2 linked regions of the Homo sapiens genome follow. The protein of the gene in region 2 purifies or fractionates together with the protein of the main gene of each other region. This does not show direct contact. Each region holds a gene or a part of one and is shown on either strand. Other genes may lie near its edges. The genes, in order: ZFP91 and TSPYL5.

Region 1 (3,814 bases), on a different chromosome or scaffold from region 2:
GAGCGGCTATTGTTATAACTGAACCACGATCCAGAAGAAGGCCTTCGTGTCATGTTATATTTGTTGCTGAAGATCAAACAGGTATTTCCTAAGCAGTATTTCACTTTCACGTTTCCTGCCAGACCTAAATATAAGTGGTACGTTTACTCATCAAAAATAATAATAATAATCTACTCAAGAAAAATAAAAACAAAACCTCAACTAAAAGTCTTTTATTCATTCTACACAGTACCCAAGAAATCACAGGTTTGAGTTCTAATTTTACTTTTTTTCTAAATCACTTTAAAATAAAATGTTACTCTGTATTTACACCACATTGGGAATTACTGTAATATTGAAAGATTCCAACGAAAGTTCTCTATGTGGGTTCAGATTCTTAGTCACCTCTTTTTAAACAGGAGGTGCTATGAATTTGGATGTGTTCACCACAGTTCATGTGTTGGAAACTTAATCCCCAATGTGATAGTGTTGGAAGGCGGGACCTAATGGGAGGTGCTTAGGTCTTAAAGGCTCTACCCTTATATAAATGGGTTGATATTATCATTGGAGTAGATTTGTTACAAAAGCAAGTTCAACCCATTCTTGCCCTTCCACCATGGGCTGACACAGTTAAAAGGCTCTTGTGAGATGTGGGCACCATGCTTTTGGACTTTCCAGTCTCCAGAACCACAAGCTAATAAATAAATATATGTTCTTTGTAAATTACCCAGTCTCAGGTACTCTATTATAGCAGCACAAATGGACTAATCATGATTAACCCATTTATGCTGGAGGTTGCAAATGTATTTTTGTGAAAAATCAGACCTTGGTGATGACCTTGAACAGTAGGATATAAATAACTTGCCCAAGCTTAGCATTCTAATAATGGAACACTAGGCATAAATGGGTTAAAGTCATTTTATGTTTAAAGAAAGACTTTTCTTGACATTACATGTCAATGATAAAGCCTACACAAGCCAACAAATTAAAGTCTCGTGGTGCAAGAACAAGTAATGGAACACAACCTGAAAGGCTCTTATATAACAACTTCACTGACCTGCAAATAGCGAGGATGGGCAAGGACAGTTCCACATCCTTCCATCTCACAACGGACATACTGGATTGGAGGCTTTTTTCTATTATCAAAATGCAGAAGAAAAGTTAGCAAAAAAAAAAAAGTGGTACTCTGCACAGTGGCCTCTGACTTAAACTGTGCTATTGGGAATAGCTATTTTATAGTAGGAAGAATTAAAATCTCTTTACTACTATACAGATTACACAGAATTTGTATTAGAAGTAACCAAGAATTAGCAAATATTTGACAGAATTAAAAAGTAACACAAATAAACTAATGACCCCCCAAAGGTAAAGTATTAAGATTGTTAGAAATTTCAAGCTCTTACAATGAAAATAAGATCATAACACCTGTGCATCTAGGACATTAGTGAAGTTGCTTTTGTGAAATTTTTAAATAGCCATTCCTGCAGGATTATCATGAAGTCTAAATTTGTGAGTAAAGTGCCTGGTACTGGAATAAGGTGTAAAACAGTAGGGGTAAAAATTCCTCACCTCCTTTTGGGTAAACGTGGACTTTTGTCATCTTTTCGTCTTCTTCCTCTCCTGTAATTGAAGACAGGGTAACAGTAGACATATTCTGAATCAAAACTACACAGTGAAGGCTGGCTGAAGACACACACACACACACACGGCCAAAGAACAAGTGGCAAAGGATAACCAAGAATACATAAAGTCAAAGATATATCTGGCAAATCAAGCAAGTAATTTTACCCTGAAGTAATTTCACTTTCAAATCAGTCTGTAAGACAGATTAAATATATACCTTCCATAAACTATGCAATACTATGAAAGACTTAGAAGAATCTCAATGTATTACTTTTAGAGTTGCTACCATGTATCATCTAAAAACACTAAGATTAAAAAATACCTTCTCCTTGCAATAGAACTGAAAAACCTAAACATTTTTTTACTAAGAGTCTCTCCAGTGAAATTGTCAGCTGCTTGAGGCCAAATTTTTTTAAGTTAAAAAATACATATTTTGAAGCATGTATACGTCAACATCCTTCCTCACACTCCCACTCTTTTTTCCACTAGTCGTTCAAAATCTGTTAGATTTTCATTTTTAATAATTGCCTACTCACTTCCTTGGAGGTTCCTCATCCTCTCTAATTTCATTCTCCTCTTCTTTCACCTCCACCTCTACTTCCACTTTAATTTCCTTCTTCTCCTTCTCTTCTTTTACCTTCCCTGATTTTCTCCGTGGCTTTGGGGTTTCCCTGAAAACACAAATGCATTTCAATACTAGACAAAAGATCTTTTCAAGGAAGACTATGACAACAAATTAAAGCTTAGAGTTATCACTGATTTGTTATAAAACTACCTTCCTCAGTTCATGAAATGTGATTTCCTACCAATCATCCTCACATGCATAGTAATGATCCAAATATATGTATATGTTGCTCATGGAATGAACCCTCCCCAGACTAAAGATGCCTGTAAATCAAATTTCACTATAATTGTAAAGAGAAACGAGACAATTAGTTAAAAAATTCTAAGTATTCAGGCAATTCATGATACCTTGTTGAAATAAAACATGCAGACTCATAAAAACTTGTATATAATCAAAATAAAGTTCTACAAATGGGAAAGAGGATTATTATCAGGGTATATTAAGGTGTTAGACTTACAAAAGAAGTGCATAATTAATTACTCATTTAAAATTAATTCTATACCCATTAGCTTGGCAACAGATAAAATAAAAGCATGCAACAGTGCTTTCCTACTTATATTTCATTAACATGTCTGCAGTAAAATCTGAGACATGCCTTTCTAAGTGGGGTTTGTAGGTCTCATCTCTTGGATCATCTTTGAATGGTATCTCCTCTTCACTGATTAACATCTCTTCTTCCTCCTCCTCTTCCTCTTCACTACTAAAAATAAGTAAATAGAAATGAGACATTCTGGTTGTAGCGAACATGTCTGAGGGGATTTTATTTGGTAATTTTTTAAGAGGTAGCCAAACACTGATAAAGTCATCTAGCATTTTCATCCTAATGACCTAATTGGACTGAAATCTAGCTGTTTTATCACAAAGAATAATAATTGAAACTAAAAAGACATAAATCCTAGATAAAGACAGGGTGATGACAACTCAATGGCATTAAAAGTTAAGAAACAACTGACTTTGTAATACTGTCTGGTGATCTGCTATATTAAAAGACCTACTAACAGATAAATCACAACACAAAAGATTCCAATAAAATCTCAAAACCTTGGCCAAAACACCCATATTTCACATTAGTGCCTACCATGGAATAAGTCCAAACACAGAAGATACTCAAGACATGATTTCTAAGCTATGTAAGTAGATTACATGGTTTAAGTTCTAATCAAGCTCAACATGGAATCTAAATGCAGTATCAAAACTGAAGTTAATTTCTCTTACAGCTCAAAATAATTTCAAATGGAAGCAACTTCTGAATCATTTACTGTGACTATGCTATGTCCCCAAAGGTTTAAAAATGAAATATTAATGTTTTTTTTACCTAATGCCACCTGGAGACTGATGCTCTTCTCCAACATCTAGAAAAACAAAGCCAAAAACAAAATTTTATTAGTGTAGATATAAGATATTTTCTCTCTGCAGTCAAGAAATGCAAATCAAATTACTGCATGGGGTAATTATACAAAAGCAGAATATCTGCAAACTGTTCAAAGAAATACCACCTACACCATCAAACCTGCCCCTGACAGTTAAGCTGTTAACACAAATGTTCAACATTACATTTAAAATGTAACAGCAACTAGTTAGTAAACA
Region 2 (4,548 bases):
CTATGACATGGCTGCCTTGGGGTTTATAACTCAAGCAGATGCTAGGCATGAAAAGGATTTTCAACTTCAGAACTGTAGAGCAAGCGCAGGAGACAGGTTCAGGGTTTGCCAGCAGATCCACTTGGCCTTCTGGTTTCCTCAACTCTCTTTCAACCTAGTATGTGTGCGCAGTGCCAAGTTCTCAGCTACCTCCCCAGCTGTATGTAGAAAAATGTGGTTTTTCAGTTGTTTTCTCTGTGGTACTATTTAAACAAAATAAAAAAGAATAAGGAAAGAAGGAAGGGGAAGGCAGAAGGGGAGGAAAGGAGGCTACCAGGAAAGGGAGGGAGGAAAGAAGAATGAGAGGGAGGAAATGAGGGATGAAGGCAGGCAAGCAAAATAAGAAGTATAAGTGACCTGAAGTCAAGCAAGCAGAGGCCCACAAATCAGAAATACCTCTTCCCAGAACCCCTACTATGGCACTCTGCTCACATCTTAGACGGGAATAAGGGAAGTTGACAATGGTATCTGGATTCTATATAGGCCCAGTCCTCACCCTCACCTGGAGCCACAGCATAATGACAGTGAACACATGTCCACACATACCAGCCCGCCCATCAGTCTGGCAGCCAGTAGGGTTCCTGGAAAGCTGGGGAGGGTAGGTGTGTGTCTCATGCACTGGTAGGGGGCCTCGGTCCACAGGCAGTTCTTGAGGTCCTTGTTGACCAGGAAGCCAACTGGGGCTGACAGCAACCCAGACAAAACTTAATGGCTTGATAGTGACACGGCATGGCGCAGATCTTGATGAAAGTTCACCAGTAGAAGGGCCCAGAAGCAAGAAGAGACACATGATGGTACAGAACACATGGCATACTGTTTCTTGCCCTTAACTTCATGCATGCCCAGCAGTCAAGTGCCATTCTGCAGAACATCAAGCAGGATGGGTATCACAGACCACAGGCCAAAGCCAGAAATAAAGCAGGTGACATCTCAGCTGGTGACCCCAGACCCACAGAACAGGAAGTTCTGGCTGATGACTAATACCATGTGCACTGGCTTCATTCTGCAGTGGCAATGGAAACGCTTGCATAGATGACATGCATGGCCAGCATGAACACGAAGCCCAGCAAGTCACTGGCCCTGAAGGAGCAGAGCTTGAGGATGCACTGGTCGTCCTGGAGGATGACTCATGAGTGTCCATGTTAAAGACAAGTAGGAAAGGCCAGAGCCAAGAACAAGGTCCAGGCAATGTAGATAACAGGGAGCACACATCTAAAGTATGTGTGCTTAACATATGAACAGTCCGGGTGCGATCACATAACATGTGACACTAACGTAGAAAAGCAAGAGGCTATGGGAGGCAAAAGAACATGATCATAAATGCCATATTCTTGTAACTAAAGTCCAAAGGGTCTATAGTACACAGAGGCCAACATGAAGAGAAGGCAGAGAGCCAAATATGTAGTCAACCAGGAGCAGCCCAGCAGGAGGTAGCAGGGAGACTTGTGCAGGATCAGTTGGATTGGCTCACCCCAGGCTGAGTAGTCTCCATTGGCTGCTTTCCTGGACCTTGCCTGCCTTCTTTTTCCTTTCCTTTCTCTACACGAGCCCCTTCACTCAAAAGGTAGAACTGCAAGGGATTGGGCCACAATTCTTCGTTGATTATCTCCACAATCTTGTCAGACTCAATGGAGCTGTGGTTTGAAAACCACCCAAAGAAACTACGGTTGTTTTCTGGGTTTCCCTGGCTTAGGGACTGGAGATCATGCCCTGGGAGCCACTGGATTGGAGTAGAACGAGACACCACCTGGCCAGAAGGACCACACCCATATTCCTTGATGAGCACCTTATTTTGGAAATACGGGTTGCGATCGAAGTAGAACTTGATTTTGTAGCCCAATCTGGCAAGGCCGAGCTCTTCCACTTCCAAGCTGTTTAAGTAGCTCAGTACCTCTTTCTCTTGGCTATTCAGAAAGGATGCTAGCTGGGGATGGTTCTGAAATGCTTGCCCCCAGAAGCCCGGGATATTTTGGATGAGGTGGTTCCTGCGCTCCAAGTGCTGCAGTCGCAACTGCCCAAACTTCCTGGAGAGCCGAAGGTAGGCCCTGTCCGCCTGGGCGTTCATGTTCTCCAGCTTCAGCTGCACGTTCTCCAGCGTATCCATGCTGCCTTCCGTCGCTGGGGGCCCCGACCCTGCATCCCTCTCTTCCTTCTTTTCCTCCCCAGCTGACACCGAGGTATTCTCCCCTGCCGCCCCTTTCTTCTGCCTCCCACCAGCTATGACCTGAGGCCCCCTCCCCGCGGTGCTACAGGTTTCTGGGGCCTTCTTCCCGGCAGGGCCACGCCGGTTTCCAACGCGGGGGGCATTTTTCGGCCTTCCCACGGTTCCCGCTGTTCCCACGAAGACAGTGTCTGCGGCCAGGCGCTCCGAGAGAGATGCGGCCTTCCCCGGGCCGGGCCTGGCCGCGGCCTGCCCGTGGTCCCCCGCAGCTCGGGCCCGCAGCGCGAGGCCACAGTCCAGGGGGAGCCGGCAGGCGGCCTCCTCCCCGAGCCGGAGGAGCTGCGCGGACGCAGCGGCTTCCAGGCCACCCCACCCCGCGCCAGCCTGCACCTGTGCCGCCTGGGTGTCTTCCCCGAGACTCTGGTACTGTGAAGGGTCCGGGTCGCGCGGGGCGTCGTCCGGAGCAGGGCGGACTCGGGCTTTGGCGCGGCCTTTGCCCCGGTTTTTGGCGCGGGAGGACTTTCGACCCCGACTTCGGCCGCTCATGGTGGCGGCGGAGGCAGCTTCAAAGACACGCTGTGACCCTGCGGCTCCTGACGCCAGCTCTCGGTCGGGACCGAGCGGGTCTCTCCACGGCAACCGCCGACGTCACGAACGTACAACTGTACCGTCGCGAGAGGACGTGATGCGCCCGGTGATTGGCGCCGCCGCTGCGGCTGCGCAGGAGACGACCCCCGCGGGCGCTCCCACCCCCATCTCGCGCGGACTCGCTTTAGGTCTCGGCGAGTTTCTCTGATATGCGCTCGCGGGGGTGCTGCCATTTCATCTCTTCCGCGCGGGCTCATCGTGCTCTCAGGGTCTCGTTGAACAAGGCAACGCTAAGAGCCATCACCACCTGTCCCCCATCACCTGTTTTCTAAACTAAACATCTTCAGCTCCTCCAGTTATCTCTTGTGGCATCTGTCATGAAGAAAGTGCTCGGGCGTGTGTGTCTCTCTTTGAACACCTTTGCTGAGGGATTTGCTCTGGTACCTTAACTCCAGAGAACGTAAAGGTGGATGCTATAATGCCGGGCGTCAAAGCGATTTGGTACGCAGTAAGATGATAGTAGAAATTATAAAAATAATGGCAACTAGTATTTTGTATCATTTGTGCCAGGCACTTTACTAGGTGCTTTAAATGCATTATCTCAATTTACAAAGGAGGTGTTGATATCATTCCCATTTTCGAGATAAGAAAACTGCATCTCAGAGACACCCGGGCACATTCCCCAGGTTACACAGTAAGGGATGGAAGCACAATTCAAACTCAAGCCCATGGGACTCCGTATCCTATGCCTTATATTTGGAAATGGCAAGTCCTTCCAGACTTGTTCCACTGTCAATTACTGGGCTGGCTCTTAAGAAATCAGCCTTGCTCCTTAACAAACAGGCTTCCGTGGACCACCTGACCACCTCTTCTGCCTGGGAACATCACCCGAGTCCCCCAGCTGCCTCAGTTTACAGATCTGGACTATCACTCTAGGTATAGGACCAGAAGTGAAGACCTGTATTAGAGCTCCTGTAATTGGAGTAAGACAAGAATGTGGTGAGAGGTGAAATTATTATTCAGGGAGCAGATTGAGGTTCAGAAGCAGAGCCTCCACGTGGCACTGCAGAAGCCCTAGAAACTTCTTACACTGTGCATGGAAACAGCCGGACAACCTCCCCCACAGTCCCGGAGGCAGCCCTGGACCACGCTCTTACTAGTGAGGTAATAGGACCATGAACAGTGAGGGGACCTGTGGCTAATGTAAAAATATAAAGAAAAACCTTTTGAGGTGGTCTTTTCAGGCTCAAAGGGAACAAAAAGGCCCTTGTAACCAGCTAGTGGAGAGATAAGCCCAAAAGCCCCGGGACCTCATTACTCAAAGTGTGGTTGTGGACCAGCAGCCTGATATCACCTGAAAGCTTGTTAAAGATGCAGAATCTCAGGCCTTTCCCCAGACCTACTAAGTCAGAATTTGAATTTTAACAAGATCCTGGGTGATTTGTATACACCCCTAAGTTTAAGGAAACAATTTAAAGAGGAATTATTTTTATACAGATGGCCCTATTTTAAGCCGGCCTAATACAAGTGATTCCTCATTTTCTCAAAAGCTCTAGAATAGCCTGCAAGGCCCTGTATGATCTGGCAAGTCTTCTATCTGCCACTACATGAGTTACCTCTCTGACCTCATCTTCTCTCTCCTCTCTCCCACCTCTAGCTACACTGGCTTCCTTGCTGTTCTTAAACTCACTAGGTAAACTCCTGCCTCAGAGCCTTTGCACTGGCTCTTCCTTCTACCTTAAATGCTCTTTCCCAATGTG

Evidence for each region.
Region 1: the proteins of TSPYL5 (region 2) and ZFP91 purify together in Homo sapiens (affinity purification with mass spectrometry; one large-scale study listed by BioGRID and IntAct). This does not show direct contact.

Annotation. Positions count from the first base shown.
Region 1 is NC_000011.10:58,610,063-58,613,876, reverse strand, and holds part of ZFP91 (E3 ubiquitin-protein ligase ZFP91), read right to left. Parts: intron 3,580-3,814; coding exon 3,543-3,579; intron 2,928-3,542; coding exon 2,823-2,927; intron 2,274-2,822; coding exon 2,139-2,273; intron 1,600-2,138; coding exon 1,549-1,599; intron 1,116-1,548; coding exon 1,037-1,115; intron 1-1,036. UniProt on the Homo sapiens protein: Atypical E3 ubiquitin-protein ligase that mediates 'Lys-63'-linked ubiquitination of MAP3K14/NIK, leading to stabilize and activate MAP3K14/NIK. It thereby acts as an activator of the non-canonical NF-kappa-B2/NFKB2 pathway.
Region 2 is NC_000008.11:97,275,099-97,279,646, forward strand, and holds the start of TSPYL5 (testis-specific Y-encoded-like protein 5), read right to left. Parts: upstream 2,831-4,548; 5' UTR 2,747-2,830; coding exon 1,493-2,746; 3' UTR 1-1,492. UniProt on the Homo sapiens protein: Involved in modulation of cell growth and cellular response to gamma radiation probably via regulation of the Akt signaling pathway. Involved in regulation of p53/TP53.